Homo sapiens: one gene and its partner. The gene in region 1 interacts genetically with each later gene. Each region holds a gene or a part of one and is shown in the gene's direction. Other genes may lie near its edges. The genes, in order: LPAR6 and SPPL3.

Region 1 (4,112 bases):
GGAAATAACACCTACATTTAAGTACCCTCACCTTACACACACTTTCTTCTTCTGATTTTGGAGTCTTTAAAATATAAGTATACTTTTTTTTTTTTTTTTTGAGATAGTCTCGCTGTCGCCCAGGCTGGAGTGCAGTGGCTTGATCTTGGTTCACTGCAACATCTGCCTCCCAGGTTCAAGCGATTCTCCTGCCTCAGTCTCCTGGGTAGCTGGGACTACAGGCACGCACTATTGCCCTAGGCTAGTTTTGTATTTTTGGTAGAGATGGGGTTTCGCCATTTTGGCCAGGCTGCTCTCAAACTCCTGATCTCAGGTGATCCACCTGCCTCGGCCTTCCAAAGTGCTGGGATTATAGGCGTGAGCCACTGCACCTGGCCCAAAATATGAGTATACTTTAAATATAAACATATAAACCATTCATAGAAACTTTTAGATGGAGACAAAATCTGAAATATATTTCAATATATAGTTAATGTCATATTAAGGGGTTAAGGGAAGAGCTGGGAGGAAGAAGGAAGATAAGACTATGAACCTAAAATTTTGCCAAGTAGTAGGATTTTTATTCTCTAAACCTTATTTCAATCAATTTAAGGTTAAAAAAATTTTGCTTAAAAAGATGCAATTTCATTTTGTGCTTAGAAAGTAAAATTAACACCACACCAAAGATAAACATTCTTGAGTTTGTTCTTTTGGAGAAATGAGTAATTTAAAAATTTAAACAGCTCTAAAATATTAATACAACTGCATAGGAAAGAGGAAAGAATGTTAGAAAATTGCTTATCAAAAACTAATGAGACCCAGGATAAGAGCTACTCATAATGATAACAATTAAATATTGAGTATTTTTCAGAAACCAAGAGTCAAATGCTTGTTATACCTTAAAGGTTAAAGGCCCCTGTTTCATAGTCATTAAACAGTTCTTTGAAATGCTATGTTAAGATATCACTAACAATTTCAATTTATAAATACACACCCATACACATTTTCTTTTCTAAATTGTCATATCCCAAACACGAAAACAATCGAATAAGAGAACAGGCTGAATAGTGATTTTTTTCTTTCAATTATTACTACTGAAACAAATCAAAACAACTCTGAGAGGTTGCCAGCACCGCAGAAGGCATTTCCACATAAAAAGAGTTAATGAGCAGACCACGCAGTTCAACAGCCAGTGACCATTTGCAAGCCTCCTAGGTATATTCCCAGCAGACACATTATCAGATTAAAGGAAGTGCAAACAAACTGGGCTGAAAGTTTCTTTGTCCAAACCCAGCCTCTTCTTCCTGTGATGTCATATTACAAATCTAGGAAGCCTTTCTTTTTCACTTCAGAGAAAGCGACCTCAAGATACAACTGGCAACTGAGGAAAAGGCCTCAATTCAACAAGAGCTAACAAGCTTGGGAGTTTATTTCGGAATCTTTAAAAGACTCTTCTGCTTACCCACAATCTGGGATCCACTGCAGGAAAACAAAAAAGGAAAACTTCATTTAAAAGAAGCAAGAAGTAAAATGGGACAAATTGGGAATGTTTAAGTCTCTGAAACTCTGCACTGAAAAGAAAATAAGATTGATAACTTAAGCTTAACATTCTGAGGCATAAAGAAACATTAACTTTGGAGTATTCATCTTGACTACTGAAATACAAGTTTAGAAGACAAGTGGTTTCATTCTGGTCACAGATCACAGCTTTTCTTTAAATTTATAATCCTATGGGTTGGACTCGTTGACTGTATTTTTTAAAGGTTGCTCGTCAGTTAACTGAGCCTTGGAATTCATGGATTTTCTAAAGACTAACAAATGAAAATATTTTCCTGTTGAAGAACCCAGCGGAAATTTTACAGCAACAAATTTCATGTTTCTTTTGGGTATTTCTGAGAAAAAGGAAATATTTATAAAACCATCCAAAGATCCAGATAATTTGCAAATAAATTGGAGGTTATAGAGGTTATAATCTGAATCCCAAAGGAGACTGCAGCTGATGAAAGTGCTTCCAAACTGAAAATTGGACGTGCCTTTACGATGGTAAGCGTTAACAGCTCCCACTGCTTCTATAATGACTCCTTTAAGTACACTTTGTATGGGTGCATGTTCAGCATGGTGTTTGTGCTTGGGTTAATATCCAATTGTGTTGCCATATACATTTTCATCTGCGTCCTCAAAGTCCGAAATGAAACTACAACTTACATGATTAACTTGGCAATGTCAGACTTGCTTTTTGTTTTTACTTTACCCTTCAGGATTTTTTACTTCACAACACGGAATTGGCCATTTGGAGATTTACTTTGTAAGATTTCTGTGATGCTGTTTTATACCAACATGTACGGAAGCATTCTGTTCTTAACCTGTATTAGTGTAGATCGATTTCTGGCAATTGTCTACCCATTTAAGTCAAAGACTCTAAGAACCAAAAGAAATGCAAAGATTGTTTGCACTGGCGTGTGGTTAACTGTGATCGGAGGAAGTGCACCCGCCGTTTTTGTTCAGTCTACCCACTCTCAGGGTAACAATGCCTCAGAAGCCTGCTTTGAAAATTTTCCAGAAGCCACATGGAAAACATATCTCTCAAGGATTGTAATTTTCATCGAAATAGTGGGATTTTTTATTCCTCTAATTTTAAATGTAACTTGTTCTAGTATGGTGCTAAAAACTTTAACCAAACCTGTTACATTAAGTAGAAGCAAAATAAACAAAACTAAGGTTTTAAAAATGATTTTTGTACATTTGATCATATTCTGTTTCTGTTTTGTTCCTTACAATATCAATCTTATTTTATATTCTCTTGTGAGAACACAAACATTTGTTAATTGCTCAGTAGTGGCAGCAGTAAGGACAATGTACCCAATCACTCTCTGTATTGCTGTTTCCAACTGTTGTTTTGACCCTATAGTTTACTACTTTACATCGGACACAATTCAGAATTCAATAAAAATGAAAAACTGGTCTGTCAGGAGAAGTGACTTCAGATTCTCTGAAGTTCATGGTGCAGAGAATTTTATTCAGCATAACCTACAGACCTTAAAAAGTAAGATATTTGACAATGAATCTGCTGCCTGAAATAAAACCATTAGGACTCACTGGGACAGAACTTTCAAGTTCCTTCAACTGTGAAAAGTGTCTTTTTGGACAAACTATTTTTCCACCTCCAAAAGAAATTAACACATGGACATTTTAAAGTCTTTAGTATAAAGAAAATTTGTATTCAATGTGTTAAGCATTAACATGTATTTTATTTGTGTATCCACTCCATCTGATTTTTCTGAGCCATTTTGATTTGTTCCTTCATTAAAAAAAATCTCTTAAAGTTATTTAGTGTCTAAAAGTGACTGACTTAAATTATGTGGTGCCAATCTGTAATGTCTTTGAATTCCTTTTTATATTAAATGATTTAATTTACTAAATTATTTTATACTAATTTATGTTTATGTAATATTTTATTCAACATACCATTTTTATTTTGAATTAAAACTACTAATCATATTTCTTAAACTATGATTAACAAATGAGAAAGAAGAGTAATTTGAAATAAATGTTTTGGGAGTATTTTAAAATATATGTATAACTAAAAACGTAGTCTTCTGTAGAAATGATGACATATTAACATTGTTGGAAGATCTTGAGCAGTAACACATTGATAACATTTTGGGAGTTTGGTCTGTGTAGGCAATTTGTAGAAAGCAGATGCTATCTATATGGTATGCTTTGAAGTTACTATTTTGATTTTCTGTATATAATGCACCCAATTTCAAAATGATATATGCCACAAAAATTGAGAGGGAGAAAACTAATAAAATGTCATTTTGCTAAGTTTTTACTTAGCAAAAAAATAAAATACTACCAGAGGTACATTTTAAAGGTGCACTTACATCACAGTCAAGAACTTATGTTTTAAGTATGTTAGGTCGGAGAAACATCAGAGATAGTGAAATATAGTACTTGGCATTTAGAAAGTAATATACTGTCACGTGTTGCTTATGATGCTTGCTTAGGTAATTATGTCGTGCAAACATCACAGTGTGTACTTACACAACTCTAGAAGGTATACACTATTACACACCTAGGCTTATATGGTACACCCTACTGCTTCTAGGCTACAAACCTATACAGCATGCTAC
Region 2 (4,562 bases), on another chromosome or scaffold:
TGGGGGTGGAGGGGTGTCCAGGAGGGTTAGTGTATCTGTTGCCCAGGCATGTTTCTAAATTCTGAAGCTGCACTGGTTAATCATTTTTATTCATGAACACAGTAACTGGCAAGGAGGCTTAGCTGGGCCCTCAAAGTCTGGCCTCAGTGCACCTTCTCAGTATATTTTCTCAACACTCCAGCACAAATCACCCATCCCACTCTCGGATTCAAGCTCACCAGGAATTGGGCCTTACTTCATGCCATTCTTTCTTTCTAGAATGCCTTTTCTTTTTTTTTTTTCTTTTTCTTTTTCTTTTTCTTTTTTTTTTTTTGAGACAGAGTCTCGCTGTTGCCCAGGCTGGAGTGCAGTGGCGCAATCTCGGCTCACTGCAAGCTCTGCCTCCGGGGTTCACGCCATTCTCCTGCCTCAACCTCCTGAGTAGCTGGGATTACAGGCGTCCACCACCACGCCCGGCTAATTTTTTGTATTTTTAGTAGAGACAGGGTTTCACCGTGTTAACCAGGATGGTCCCGATCTCCTGACCTCATGATCCACCCACCTCGGCCTCCCAAAGTGCTGGGACTACAGGCGTGAGCCACCGCGCCCGGCCAAAAGAATGACTTTTCTTTGATAAGCCTCTCACCCTTTCAGACGGCCTCATCCACTCCTGGGGAAGCATTCCGCAGTACCTGGGGCCTCAATTAATCTCTCTCTTCTCTCTCCATCTAAGCTCCAGATTCACTTTGTTGGTCTCTGGTCTAGCTCTACCGTGTTTATTTCTGTGCCGGTTTCCAGACCTCCAAATGGACGGTTTCCTGAGCCTTCTGCCCTTGCTGTTCCCTCTGCCAGGAACTCTTTTCCTGTGGATCTTTGCAAGGCCAGCTCTCTGTCATCATTCAATATCAGCTCAAATGTCACCTCCTAAGCGAGGCCTTCCTTGACCACCCTATCTAAAGTAACCCACACCTCTGCTCACTCTCTGTCCCCTCACCTTGTGTTACAAAATGTGTTTTTGTAAAACTTAGCAGCATCTGAAATTATCTTATTTGTGGGCTTGGACTATGTCTCTTCCTTTAGAATGTAAGCTCTAGGAAGGCAGAGTGAGTTGACACATGGTTGGCACCCAACAAATATCTGTTGATTGATTCTGTGAAGGCAAGCGTGGGGTATTCGACTTGGTGCCGGGCCTGGGCGCAATAAAGGTTGGCTGCCTGGAATATTTGCTACCTGAATGAATGAACCAAGGAACATACGAACGAAGGAATGCAGCCCTCTGCCTGTTGACTGACAGGTTGACTGACAGTTGGGGGGCCCGTGGCCAGCAGACTGTTGACTGACGGTTGACAGCTGAGTGGCAGCCAACAGACGCGCATCGGGGTTCCCGATTGGCTGGTGCAGCAGCCCCTCGGAGAGGGGCGGAAGAGGGTACCCGAGGCGACATCTCCGCGTGGGGAGGGGGGCGGCACCAGGCAGCGGGAGGCGGCCCAACTGCTCTGGCTGTGCGAGCAGCAGCCGCCTAGAACCCAGGAGCCGACGTCTCTGCGCATGGGCCCGGCTCGAGGGGCGGGGCGCGCATCACGTGAGCGTGTTTTGGGCACGTGACCCGCGCGGGGCCAAGGCTCGCCCCCGCCCCCGCCCCTCCTCCCCTCGGCGGGTGTGATCGAGTGGCCTCGCCTCATCGCCTAGCGCCCCCCTCAGTCGCCGCCGCCTCCGCCCGCCGGCCATGTCCCCCGGCCGCCGCCGCCGCCGCCCGAGCGCGGCGCTCCCGCGGCCCCGCGCGCAGTGAGCGCGGGCCCGTCTTGCCGTTCGCCCGCCCCAGGGCCCCCTTGTTCTCCGCGCCGCCGCCGCCGCCATGTTGGGTTTGGAGCTGCAGCGGAGCCGCCGCCGCCGCCGCGGGTGAGGGAGGCCGAGAGCGGAGCCCGCCCCGCCCCGGGGCCCAGGGAGCGGGGCCGCTTCGGAGCCCGGCCTCTCCCCGCCAGCCGCCTTCCCGGCCCGCCGTGCAGCCAGCGAGCCAGCGAGCGAGCAAGCAAGCAAGCACCGGACCCCGGCCGCGCCTTCAGCTACGGCCCGAGCGAGCCCGCCGCCGCCGGGCCCGGCCACAGCCTGCAGCGGAGCCCACGAGAGGCAGCGCCATGGCGGAGCAGACCTACTCGTGGTGAGTGCGGGGCTCCGGGAGGCCGGGAGGCGGCAAGGGTGGGGGTCGGGGCGCCGGCGCGGCCCGCCGAGGGGAAGAGGAGGAAGAACAGGTGCGTGTCGTGGGGGGGGGGCGCGGGTTGGGGTGCACGCCCCCCTCTTCCCCACCGGAGGGGGCGGCTGGCGCGCACGGAGGGCGGTGAGTGGCCGGGGACCTGGCGTCCGAGAAGGGGAATGGAGGAGGAGGCAGCGGCGGATGTCATCTGGCTATGGGCGGAGCAGGTGATGGAGAAGGGGAGCATGACCCCGGGGGTGGGAATCCCACGGATGGGAAGTTGAATCCGACAGGCACCCCGGAACTGACTCGTGGGGGTGTTTCCTGGGCAGGAGGACTCGAAGGGGTGGAGAGAGGCAGGCCAGGGCAAAGGTGGGCCGCTGGGCTGAGAGGAAGCTCTAGTGAGAACAGGTGATAGAGGCAGAACTTCTAAGTTGGGAGAGTGGAGCGGCCGCCGCTTGGCTCTGGGACAGGGAGCGCAGGGAGAGTTGGTGAGGTGGGCAGAGGCCCGGGAGTGAGGGGAGGAAAACTGCGGGGGTAGAGTCCACGAACCTTGGAGGGGAGTCACTGGTGAAGAGGTTGGAAGAGGAGCCTGAAGAACCTGTTTCCTTTTCCTTCTGGAAAAGGAATTCGTTGGTGACAGTGGGGCATGGGCAGAGTCTTTGTAAGGGTTGGTACTATTATTTTCAGAGGAATGGCGCCCAGGGCCAAGTGTGGAGGTGGAGGACCTGCAAGTTAAGTTCATTTCTGTGGGGCTTTTAAAGTTAGTAAGTAGCTCGTTAAGGGCCGAGAAGCGAGAAGCTACTGTGTAGTTTATGGGGTGACAACCTACATATCCGGAGAAGGGAGTGCCAGGGTTTGGGGGAAGGAACATGAGGGGTCTCCCTTTAGCATGTAGAGGTGGGATATTTGCAGGACGGGTTGAAGGAATGATGGCAGTATCCATGAAGAGTGGAAATCGGGTAGTGAGAAGGAAGTCATAGCTGGAGAGTGAGGAAGCAAGAAATGGCATGATCGTAGGAGTGGGGGACCTGATTGCAATTTAGAGAAATGGTTTGAAGATGGTTTACTCTTGAAGCAAATGTGGTTTGGGACAGAACTGTAGACATTCCCTTCTTAGAAAAGAGCATAATAGAATGGGACGAGCATGCCGTGTGGAGTTGGAAGACCTATTTCGGAGGTCCGGTTTGCCACCAACTTGCTTTGTTGATACGACATGGTAGTGAGTTCTTCGGTCCTTTTTCCTTACCTATAAAATAGAGGGAATTACCTTTTCCACAGCCTGTAAGGATTAAGTGAGTACATTTAGAAAGCACTTGGCAAACTGTGAAGTGCCACAGATCTTACTACATTAATTATAATTATCCTAGAGAAACATCTAAGAAATGGGTAATATCAGAAAATAAGGAATGGTTTTAGGTAGAAGACTTTGAGTGGATTATTTATAGTGTTAGAGGTTATAAGTCAGTAACTCATTGAGTCTTCACATAAGAGAAAGGGAGTTGGGGATTGAAGATGATAATTCTTAAGAGAACTTCATTGATGTATGTGCAATCTCAAGAAGAAGGTAACTGAGAGACAAAGTAACCCTAAAGGAAGAATTAAAATCTTGGTGAACACGTGCTCTAAAAAGAGGTTTAAGCTAATTTCATAGTTTTGCGTGACAGCTGCCTTTCAGTAGCAGGTCGTAGGGAACACAAGATTACAATTTCAGCTTCCTTCTGGACAGAGTAAGAAATGAAGGTAAAGGTGTTTCTGTCATGCCTTGTGGTTACTCATCTTGAGCTTCTCATACTCTGGCCCTAATGGCTGTGGCCCTGAGAGTCCTAATGGCTGCTTTGCTGTTTTTACTGTGCTGTACAGAGGCCCTGGATGGTTGAAAGAATAGAAAACTCAGTGGTCAAGAAATGGGGAAAATGAAAATGTTTTACTAGGTAGGTTGGACACACACGACCTCTCTCTGACATTAGTTGGCTCTATTAAGGAGGGATTACTTTGTGAAGTTTGACAATTTACAAATTTATTCTACTAAAATACTTCCTTCAATGTCAGCTCTGTTTGCTTTACAGGCAAAGAAACTCCTTGAAATCGGGGAGCTTAGCCCCTCAACCTTTGGCAGGTTTTGAGATGAAGAAAATTTTTACATTATCTGGAGAGAGGGTGGCATATAAGGGGAGACTGGGGAAAGTGGGCAGTTTCCTTTTTTTTTTTTTTTTTTTTTAGGACGGAGTCTCGCTCTGTCACCCAGGCTGCAGTGCAGTGGCGCCATCTCGGCTCACTGCAGCCTCCGCTTCCCGGGTGCAAGCAATTCTTATGCCTCAGCCTCCCGAGTAGCTGGGACTACAGCCACATGCCACCATGCCCGGCTTTTTTTTGTATTTTTAGTAGAGAT

What was found.
Region 2: changes in LPAR6 (region 1) and SPPL3 together harm fitness less than expected from each alone (positive genetic interaction), as found in Homo sapiens cells (one large-scale study listed by BioGRID).

What each region holds. Positions count from the first base shown.
Region 1 is NC_000013.11:48,410,331-48,414,442, reverse strand, and holds LPAR6 (lysophosphatidic acid receptor 6), read left to right. Parts: upstream 1-1,329; 5' UTR 1,330-2,019; coding exon 2,020-3,054; 3' UTR 3,055-3,305; downstream 3,306-4,112. UniProt on the Homo sapiens protein: Binds to oleoyl-L-alpha-lysophosphatidic acid (LPA). Intracellular cAMP is involved in the receptor activation. Important for the maintenance of hair growth and texture.
Region 2 is NC_000012.12:120,901,420-120,905,981, reverse strand, and holds the start of SPPL3 (signal peptide peptidase-like 3), read left to right. Parts: upstream 1-1,623; 5' UTR 1,624-2,114; coding exon 2,115-2,137; intron 2,138-4,376; exon of another isoform or gene 4,377-4,562.